2 separate regions of the Homo sapiens genome follow, and region 1 is linked to region 2. Evidence: fine-mapped expression QTL. A gene starts in region 2. The other region holds a variant in brackets. All regions are shown on one strand. Distances are from middle to middle. Region 1 has its middle 8.6 kb from the start of TRC-GCA1-1. Region 2 holds the start of ZNF783 (zinc finger protein 783).

Evidence for each region. PIP is the estimated chance that this variant, and not a neighbour inherited with it, causes the effect.
Region 1: its variant is the best candidate, but not a certain one, in a credible set for the expression of ZNF783 in NK cells (Gilchrist 2021, PIP 0.71).

What each region holds. Positions count from the first base shown.
Region 1 is chr7:149,298,878-149,304,254 of GRCh38, reverse strand. No RefSeq gene overlaps it. Among named protein-coding and RNA genes, the nearest start is that of TRC-GCA1-1, 8.6 kb to the left of the region's middle. The variant T/C (reference allele first, on the strand shown) is at 2,386.
Region 2 is chr7:149,260,287-149,265,636 of GRCh38, reverse strand. It overlaps ZNF783 (zinc finger protein 783), which reads right to left and starts at 3,441. Exons shown (of 6, transcript NM_001195220.2): 1 at 3,280-3,441. The coding sequence starts at 3,303. LOC124901769 (a long non-coding RNA gene) reads left to right here and starts at 3,296. Exons shown (of 2, transcript XR_007060582.1): 1 at 3,296-3,990. RefSeq lists a silencer at 2,974-3,843.

The DNA.
Region 1 (5,377 bases), 39 kb before region 2:
CCTGTCTCTACTAAAAATGCAAAAATTAGCTGGGCGTGGTGGCACCCGCATGTGGCCTCAGCTACTGGAGAGGCTGAGGCAGGAAAATTGCTTCAGCCCAGGAGGCAGGGGTTGCAGTGAGTCGAGATTGTGCCATTGCACTCCAGCCTGGGCGTCAGAGCGAGCCTCCATGTCAAAAAAAAAAAAAGGGAGGGGGAAATAATTCAACCCATAATGCACACAAAATGAATCTGGTCATGCTGTTGCCTTCCAGAAACTTTTCTTGGTTACTGTTATGGACTGAATGTCTGTGTCCTCCAAAATTCATATGGTGAAGCCCTAATCCCCAAAGTGATATTGTTTGAAGGTAGGGCTTTTAGGAGGTAATTAGGTTTACATGAGGTCATGAGGGTGGGGCCCCAGGGTGGGATTAGTGCCCTTACATGAAGAGAGACCACATCTCCACATCTCTCTCTCTCTCTCTCCTTTTCTCTCCCACTCTCTCTCCCTCTCTCCCCAACATGTTGAGGATGTCTGCAAGCCAGAAGAAGAGCCCTAAGGAGAGCCAGGAGAGAATCTGCCCACATCTTGATCTTGGACTTCCAGCTTCCAGAACTGTGAGAAATAAATTTCTGTTGTTCAAGCTGCCTAGTCCATGGTATTTTGTTTTAGCAGCCCGGGCTGACCAATACCGTCAACACAGTACTTTTTGTTGTTGTTTTGTTTTTGTTTCTGCTTGTTTGTTATCTAGCACTAACATTTTAAGATGGCAAGGGTAAAATGGGATTTTCCACATTTTCAATCCTCTCCAACCCTTTTGGAAAGCAATTTTGGCAATATTGTATTTATTATATTGACTCAGTCATGCCACTTCTGAGAATCTATTTTAAATAAATAAACACCCATGAAAAATAAGAAACCTAAGATTATCACTGTATTATTTTTAATTTAAAACTAGAAAAAAAACTCTAAATGTCTAGTAGTAGGGGAATGGTTAACAGCATTCACTTAGTGGAATGTTATGTTGCCATTTGAAGAGATCAGGTAATGTTTATGAAGCATCTCCTCTGTGCCAGGCTCTGTGCTAAACAGGATAGATGCAGAGATGAAGAACATGGTGCTTGCTTTCAAAGAATTTACATTTTAGTAGAAACAGACACAAAACACTCATTTCATAATTCAAATATTTAGTAAGCACCTACTATGTGCCAGGCATTATTCTAGGTACTGGGCATCAAGCAGGAACAAAACAACATCCCCATTCTCATGGAGTAGATAATAATCAAACAGGCAGGGCACAGTGGCTCACGTCTGTAATCCCTGCACTTTGGGAGCAAGAGGCAGGAGGATCATATGAGTCCAGGAGTTCAAGACCAGCCTGGGCAACACGGTGGGACCCCATCTCTACAAAAAATTCAAAAATTAGCCAGGTGTGGTGGCATGTGCATGTGGTCACAGCTACTTGACAGCTGGGGCAGGAGGATTGCTTGAGCCCAGGAAGTTGAGGCTGCAGTGAGCTGTGTTTACACCACTGCACTCCAGGCTGGGTGGCAGAGGGAGACCCAGTGTCAAAAAATAAATAATTTTTTTAAAAAGATAATAATCAAATAATTAATGTCAGGTGCAAATCTGTGCTGTGAAGACACATAAGGCAGAGTGGGGGAAAGAGAAGGGGCCCCAGCAGCAAGTAGGGTGGTATTTTAGATGGAGCATTCAGAGGTGACATCTGCAAGTGATCTGAAAGGAGCGGGGAGCAAGCCATGCGAATGTCTGAAGGGAAGGGCTCTCGGGCAGAGGACCAGCGAGAGCAGAGGCCTGGAAGCATGGCCAGCGTGGCCAGGTAGAAAGATGGGCCGTTTACCCTGGCCATGAGGGAGGCCCCCAGTGGGCAGTGCAGGGAGCCAGGGGAAGGCCTGGCTGTGGAGCATGATGTTTGAGGCAGGATGGTAGCAGAGGTGGCGGCGGAGGTGGGTGGCTGAGGCCTTTGGACGGGATTCACGCCTTGGAGAGTCCCTGAAGACATTTACTCATTCTTTGAGACCGAGCACAAGCGTCATGCTCCTGTGAGCTCATCCCTGACTCTCTTGACGGCCAGTCTACCCTTCTCCCGGGTTCCCACATCAACGTGTAGTCTATTTCATTATTGCTGCTTTGTATTGGATTCGAGCCATTCAAGCCCTTCACACATCTAACGCATGCACGTTCACACACATCTCAGAGCATGGACTCTCACTGCAGATCCCGCATATTTGATATATCTAATGTACAGGACTTAGCATGGAAAATGCTACTGAAATGAATTATTGAATACATAAACTCACATCCCCCAACTGCACTGTGATTTCATAGTAAAAGAGCAGGACTCTGTCTGGAACTCCTGCTCTATTCAGCAGTGCCTGGAACAGG[T/C]GATACTAACACCTCTCAAGTACCACTTAGATCAGGAGCGCTTTATGGGCATGAACCTGTGCAGTGGCACAGAACCCCATGCTTAGAAAGACCTGAGTTTGCTATCATGCTCTGCTGTCGCCATCAGGAAACTCATAATCTTACCTTTGAACTTGTGTTTTGCAGGTGAAATCCAATAGGACAATGAGCATGTCAGGAGCAGAGATGAGCACAGCATGTTCCTTGCAGCCCAATTTGCATATAGAGTGCTTGTGGTGCCCCATTGCATTCCGAAGGCCCACAATGCATGGAGTCCAGCAAGACCCAATGGGATATACAAGGTAAGCACATTCCATCTATGACCGAGAAAGTAGGGTTCTGACAGCCCAAGAGGTCCTACTTTCCTTTGGGACCAGAACTTGGTTCAAATACAGAAAGAATACCATGGTGTATTAGTCCATTTTTACGCTGCTGCTAAAGACATACCCAAGACTGGGCAATTTACAAAAGAAAGAGGTTTAATGGACTTACAGTTCCGCATGGCTGGGGAGGCCTCACAATCACGGCAGAAGGCAAGAAGAAGCAAGTTACATCTTAGATGGTTTGGAGGCAAAGAGAAAGCTTGTGCAGGGAAACTCCAGTTTTTAAAACCATCAGATCCAGATCTCATGAGACTTATTCACTATCACTAGAACAGCACAGGAAAGCCCGCCCCCATGATTCAATTACTCCCACCAGGTTCCTCCCAAAACACATGGGAACTGTGGGAATTACAATTCAAGATGAGACTTGGGTGGGGACACAGCCAAACCATATCACATGGTGTTCTGAGAAACACAAGCAACCAAGGAAATGTATCAGACACTTTCTTCCCCATGCTACTCGTATTATCATACATGTGCTAGCCAATTACTTACTCTGAAAATGTTGGGCTAGAAGGAAGAAGAGAGGGCAGCCCATGGCTCCTTTTCCGTTAGTCCTTTGCTCCTGGTTATACTGAAGATAGAGAGTGTTGGTAGAACGGGCATGGAGCAGGAAGTGAAATGAAAACAATGAAGTTAGCTTTGGGCAGTTTCCACGGTTCTTGTAAGAATGAAACGCATATGCATGTGTGAACTACAAATATTGTTTACTTGTGTGGAATCATGTGATTTCAGTGATTCTGCATCCCAGTAAATGCTCTTCTATTTGCATTTAAAACTATCCGTTCATAATACAAAGATGAATGGTACACACGCTCATAATGTTTTTAATTTTTGTTTTACATTAACAATTAATGTTTTAACTTTTCTTTACTCAGAATGACAGTAAAGAGCAAACAAAAAACACTATGATAGGTCAAAAGAGAGAGTGTGGAAGAAAGGAAGAAGCTTAGTATTTTAGTACCCTCCATGGTACTTTCTTCCTGCCTTTGAATAAGGGGACCCACAGTTTGATTTTGCACTGGGCCCTGCAAATTATATAGCTGCCCAGATTCGGCTCGAAGCTGCAGTTGCCAGTGCCTGGTGTAGGGCAATGATAAAGATGAGGATAGTAAGGGGTCTGGCTTCCATTCACAACATGAACACTTTGCATAAATGAAACAGCGGGCTCAGGACAGCCAACCGCCAACTGAGACAAACTGAATACCAGAAGGTCATTAAGGGGCTTTGAAAGAGGCTCTTGGCCAGGTGCGGTGGCTCACGCCTGTAATCCCAGCACTTTGGGAGGCTGAGGCAGGCGGATCACGAGGTCAGGAGATCGAGACCATCCTGGCTAACACGGTGAAACCCCGTCTCTACTAAAAAAAGACAAAAAAATTAGTTGGGCATGGTGGCGGGTACCTGTAGTCCCAGCTACTGGGGAGGCTGAGGCAGGAGAATGGCGTGAACCCGGGAGGCAGAGCTTGCAGTGAGCCCAGATTGCGCCACTGCACTCCAGCCTGGGCGACAGAGTGAGACTCTCCGTCTCAAAAAAAAAAAAAAAGAAAAGAAAAAGAAAGAGGCTCTCACATCCTGTAGCCATGGAGCAGTCTGTGCAGAAGGCTGGAAGGAGACAAGGGACAGCAATGGGCTGCCCAGGTCAGAGTCAGAGTCCACATGGGACAGTGGGACATGGGGTCCAGGATGGGGAGATTTGGATAGACAAGTCTGAGAAATGGGGACCCCACCCCCACCCAATCTCCCTGCACTTTCCAGATGGTAAAGCAGGGCTGAGGGAGGAAAAGCTATTCTGTTTTCTCCTTATTCCTGCCAGGAGAAAGTGGAACAGCTGCCTCTCCCCTGGAGAACAAGTAATAGCCTCTCCTGGAGCAGGACCCAGCCTCGCCCTCCTCCTCAAAGCTGTGCCTCCACTGCCCCATTCGTCCTGGCCCAGTGGAGAAGCACAGTCTCCACCCCAGGAGTGTCCTAGGGCCACTGAAACAAAGGACCACACACTGCGGGGCTTAAAACAATGGAAATGTATTCCCTCACACTTCCAGAGGCTGCAAGTGTGGTATCAAGGTGCGAGGAAGGCCGTGCTCCCTCTGAAGACTCCAGGGGAGAACCTGTTCCACATCCCTCTCCTCGCTTCTGGTGTCACCAGCAACCACCCTTCCTTGACCTGCAGACACGTCCCTCCAAACTCACTCCACCATCACATGATGTCCTTCTGCATCTGTGCCCTTCACATGGCATTCTCCTCTTACATGGACACCAGCCATACTGGATTAAGGGCCCATCCTACTCCAGTGTGACCTCATCTTAACTTACATCTTAATTATATCTGCAAAACCCCTATTTCCAACCTAGGTCACACTTACAGGTACTGAAGATTAGGACTTGAGCATATCTTTGGGAGGACACAATTGAAACCACAACCCCAAGCCAGCTGCCATCAGAGCAACATGTAGCTCTGGATCATCAGGGACAGGATGGATGTAAGCTGGAGAGGGCACTGGTATGGACACCTTCCCCCAGGACTCTGGATTGTGCTCTAGGAAGGAGACCCGGAACAGGTCCTAATCATCTACTGACATGGCTCCTCGGAGCTT
Region 2 (5,350 bases):
CCAATATGCCGGTATTTGGAGGTGGAGCTTCTGGGAGGCAATTAGGCCATGAAGGCAGAGCCCTCATAAATAGGATTAGCGCCCTTGTAAGAGGAGACACAAGGGAGATGATCTTGCTGTATGCCACGTGAGGATACAATGAGAAGGCAGCCGTCTGCAAACCAGGAAAAGAGCCCTGCCGGGAACCAAGGCAGCCTGAGCAGACTGAGACAATGACAGTGATTATGGTGATGGTTCCAGCTCAGGGATATGGTATAAATAGTTCATATGGCCTTTTTTTTAACCTCCACCTCTTTTATTCCATTGTCCTTCAGTGCCTTGGAAAAAGCTTCTCAAGTGCCTCAGCTTACCCTGGTATCTGATTCACAAGCCCTCATTGTGCATGCGCAATGGGCACAGTCCTGGTTGGTGCTGCTAAAAGCCTTGTTGGAGAGACAAATCAACATCTCACTCCTCAATTTCATTCATCCTTCATGGTTAAATCACCATCAGGTCCTAACTTCCAAAATTACCTCAAATCCATCCATGTTTCTCCTTCTCCACTGCCAGTGTCTAGTCCAAGTTCCCATCACCTTGCTTGGCCTGGGCCACTGCGGTCCTGCCCACCTGATTTCCCCACTTCCAGCCTTCTCCCCCACTTCCAGCCTTCTCCCCCACTTCCAGCCTTCTCCCCCACTTCCAGCCTTCTCCCCTACTTCCAGGCTTCTCCCCGACAATACACTTTCCACAGAGTAATTGTTAATCTTTTTTTTTTTTTTTTTTTTGAGACGGAGTCTTGCTCTGTCGCCCAGGCTGGGGTACAGTGGCGCAATCTCGGCTCACTGCAACCTCCACCTCCCAAGTTCAAGCGATTCTCCTGCCTCAGCCTCCCAAGTAGCTGGGACTACAGACGCCCGCCACCACACCCAGCTGATTTTTATATTTTCAGTAGAGACAGGCTTTCACCATATTGGCCAGGCTGGTCTCAAACTCCTGACCTTGTGATCCGCCCGCCTCAGCCTCCCAAAGTGCTGGGATTACAGGCGTGAGTCAGTGAGCCACTGCTCCCGGCCTGGTAATCTTTTAAAAACACAAATAGATCATTTCAGTACCCTGCTTAAAACTCTTCAATAGCTTCCCAGTGTACCTGGCATAAGATCTAGACTTCTTCATGGCCCAGCCGACCTCTCTTGACCTTGAGCCATCCAGTTCCTGTCGTGCTCCAGCCATGCCAGCCTCCTGTGGATTCCGAGGACCCACCCGGCCCTCCTCCAACTTCACATCAGCTCTCAATATGCATCCTCTGTATGCCTGAGTCTCTCTCGTTTTTAAGATTCTAGCATAGACAACGCATCCTAGAGATTTTCACTGCCCCTCCCCCTTAGCACTAGTAATCTATAATTGCTTCATTCATTCAATAACAATTACTGAACACCTATCATAGTAAATGTACAGTGAAGATGAAGAAAAAACTGATGTGGTTCTTCCTTCTCCAGGAGAAAAATTCTGTATAGGAATACTTATAAACAACAACAGTGTGATAGGATGGGCTAACAAGAGTCCAGGGCAAATCTGTCCCTTTTGGGGAGTTTTTTGGGATCTCAAGTGCTGCAAGAAGGGAGGAGCAGGTGGACAGGAGTGATCTGAAAGGTAGTGAAGCAGTGAGCCCCAGGCTAGGGGGAGTGGATGATGTCACCTTCTAGGGCCCCCTCTTCCCAGGGAACAGGACTATAAACCTGCAGAATCCTCAACGCTTTTTCTCTCCCTTGCACTCAGGGAACCCAAAAAGAAGCTCAGCACACTCACTAAGAGGAGGGAGAGGAAGTTATACTTTAATAAAAGTATCCAGAAAAATCAAGGTTTCAAAACCTTCACTGAGGTGTATTAATAATAGTAGGTATCATCTATTGAGCCTTTACAAGCGTTTTCCAGTATGTCAAAAATGGCCAAAGGATTATAATCTCCCAATTGGACATACTGCACTATATCAAACCAAGATTCTAAAATCTGCTAAACTGGCCTAACTTATATAGATGAAGATGCCAAAAAAACTGATGTGATTCTTCCTTCTCCAGGAGAAAAATTCTGTATAGGAATACTTATAGTGTATTCTTATGAATAAACTTATTCATATAGATATGTATCTGGACAGATAGATAGATAGATATAAATGAGACAGGCACCTGCGCCTGTAATCCCAGCTACTTGGGATTGGGAGGCTGAGGCAGGAGAATACCTTGAACCCGGGAGGCAGAGGCAGAGGTTGCAGTGAGATGAGATCCCGCCACTACACTCCACCCTGGGTGAGAGTGAGACTGTGTCTAAAAAAAAAATATATATATATATATATATACACACACACACACACACACACACACACACACACACACACGTATATATATATACTTTTTTAATTAAAAAATTTTAAAATGGCCGGGCGCGGTAGCTCTCGTCTGTAATCCCAGCACTTTGGGAGGCCGGGGCGGGCAGATCACGAGGTCAGGGGTTCGAGACCAGCCTGGCCAACATAGTGAAACCCAGTCTCTACCAAAAATAGAAAAATTAGCCAGGCGTGGTAGCAGGCGCCTGTAGTCCCAGCTACTTGGGAGGCTGAGGCAGGAGAATCCCTTGAAGCCGGGAGGCGGAGCTTGCAGTGAGCCGAGATCGTGCCACTGCACTCCATCCAGCATGCGCAACAGAGCGAGACTCCCTCTCAAAAAAAAAAATTAAATAAAATCTGCTACAGTAATCTTTTTTAAAAAAATCTACTATCTCTCTTGTAAACGACACAATCTTTCTCTTTGGCAAAAGTAGAATATGAGGCGTTTTAAAGTGTCTAATTCCAAAATCCCTGCCCCGGCGTGAGGCTCCCGCCTCTAATAGATGCGTGACCCTGGGCCTGTCCCTTCCCATCTCAGCCTCCGCTACTGTCCCGTGGGGCTGGCGGCCCCTGCCCGCCCAGCCTGCTGTAGGGGGGGCCGCGAGGCCTCAAATGGGACAATACTCCTAAGGCGCGGCCTCCTCGTCGCCGAGCGTGACTCTGGGGCCCGGCCTGGCTGAGGCCGCAGATGGGCCGGATCGTCAGCCGCTGACGTCGGGGCCCCGCCCGCCGGGCCTGGCATTTGGGCCGCCCGGTCAATGCCTTCGACGCGGGCTGGGCGATGGGCCGGGGGCAACGAGCGCGGAGGCTGCGCGCAAGGCCCTCTCACCCCGCGGCCTCGCGCGGCCAGAGTCCCTCGCGCGGGCTCACGCGGCGGCGGCCTGGGCCTTCCGGGCGTCCGCGGGGCCGAGGGCGCTTACCCGGGCAGGCGCCGCTTCGGCCATGGCTGCCCGCGTCCCTCGCTGGGTTGCAGTCCCTGGACCCGGCCTGTCGGGCCCGGGGCGGCGCGGCAGCGACGGCGGAAGCGGAGCGGGACCCGCCTAACCTGAGAGCTACTGCCGGGCGGCAGCGAACTGCGTCCCGAGCCACGTGCCCCGCTGGCCCTTTAAAAAAGAGCTGCGCTCGGCGGCCGAGCTTGAGGACGCGCACAGCGCCCCCTGCAGCCCGTAGGACCGCACGCCCGCGGCCGCCGCCCCGCGCCCTCCCGAGGCCTTCAGCGCCCGCGGCGTCCGGGACCCAGGCGCGGCCACCCACCCTCACCCGGGGCGCGGGAGTTGACGCCAGGGCGGGCGTGCCACGGCCTCCAGCGGGGCTACGTCAGGCGTAAGCCACTCCCGGGCCAGCGCGGCGCCCAACCTCTCTCTGCGTCCCACGCGGGAGCCGGGAGGGCTGCGGGAAGGAACCGCGCTGGAAAGTGCGAAACCTCGCGAGGGAAAGCTGCGTGGGGAACGGGGTCGGCCCTCGCCGGGGCTCCAGTCCGGACCGAGACTCTGTTGCAGCGCCTCCCACGCACCACAGAACTGAGTTGGGGAAAGTAAAAAGGATACGTGTGTACCCAGGGAGAAGCCAGGGAAACTTACATGAACGTTTTTAAAGTCTCTTTTAAATTTGACAGAACAAACGTGAAGATGGTAGGATTTTTTTTTTTTTTTTCCTAAGCCTGCCCTCCCCTCCTGAGGACTCTGGGGTCCCTTCCTCCTCCCGGGGCCCGCCTGGTGAAAGTCCTCAGCCACCCACGAGGACCCTTCTGTAGCTTTGGTCCAGGCTGAGATCACAGCAAGTGTGAATCAGTCCATCCCTCATTTAGGCCCTGAGGCATCTTGAATAAACCGCAGGACCCATTTTCCTCGGCCTGTGCTGAGGCATATTGAACTAAATGTGCTGTATGCAGTTGAAGCTTTGTTTTCTGTCTTTTCTGCATTTCCCATTCATCTCACAGTCTTTGTCCAACAAGCTGGCAAACTCTTCCCGCTAGAAATCTGCAGTTTTGTTTCTTTCTGTGTTTGGGTTTGTTTGGGGTTTTTTGGTTTTGGTTTTGTTTTTTCTTTTTTGGGGGGGGGGGGTGAGGGTGAGAAGTTATTTTCACAAATATTTGAGCCAAGCAAAAGCGTGGTCAACTATCAGAAAAAACACAAACTGATATCCTAAGTAAGGTGAACCCCAAAATTTGCGGAAAGGTTAGGACGTGTTACTTTAAGGTAACAAATCAAATAAATATTTGGCATTATTCATTTTGGAAATTCTTGTTGAACTATCCCAATCTAAAACACAAACTGCAAGTATGCACTAAAGACATTAAGAGCATCCCTAGGATCTTATCAGGGATCAGTCCAATCTATTCAGGATTATAAAATACCAGTAAATGGTGACGTTATAGAATAACAGTTAAGGTCCAATGCAAACAGAAAGGGTCAGGAAAATGGGCCAGGAGCCGTGGCTCATGCCTGTAATCCCAGCAGTTTGGGAGGCTGAGGCGGATGGATCACCTGAGGTCAGGAGTTCGAGACCAGCCTGGCCAACATGATGAAACCCCATCTCTACTAATACAAAAAATTAGCTGGGTGTGGTGGTGAGGTACTCTGGAGGCTGAGGCAGGATAATCGCTTGAACCCGGGAAGCAGAGGTTGCAGTAAGCCGAGATCATGCCATTGCACTCCAGCCTGGGCAACAAGAGCAAAACCCCATCTCAAAAAAAAAAAAAAAGAAAAAGAAAGAAAGAAAGGGTCAGGAAAATGGGCTGGAGACAAAAATGCTAGGATTTAATGAGCTCTGTTGAGGAAAGAGTGCTATAATGTTTGACAGCTAGTCTTCGTTTTTTAGAAAAAAAGTTTCTCTAAGTCAGTGGTACTCAAACTTCAGTGTGCATCATGTTCACTGAGGGTTCTTGTTAAAAATACAGGATGCTAGGCACAAACCTCAACATTTCTAGGTCTGAAACAGGAGGGGATGAAAGTGATGCGAATTTGCAATTCTAACTAGTTCCCAAGAAAT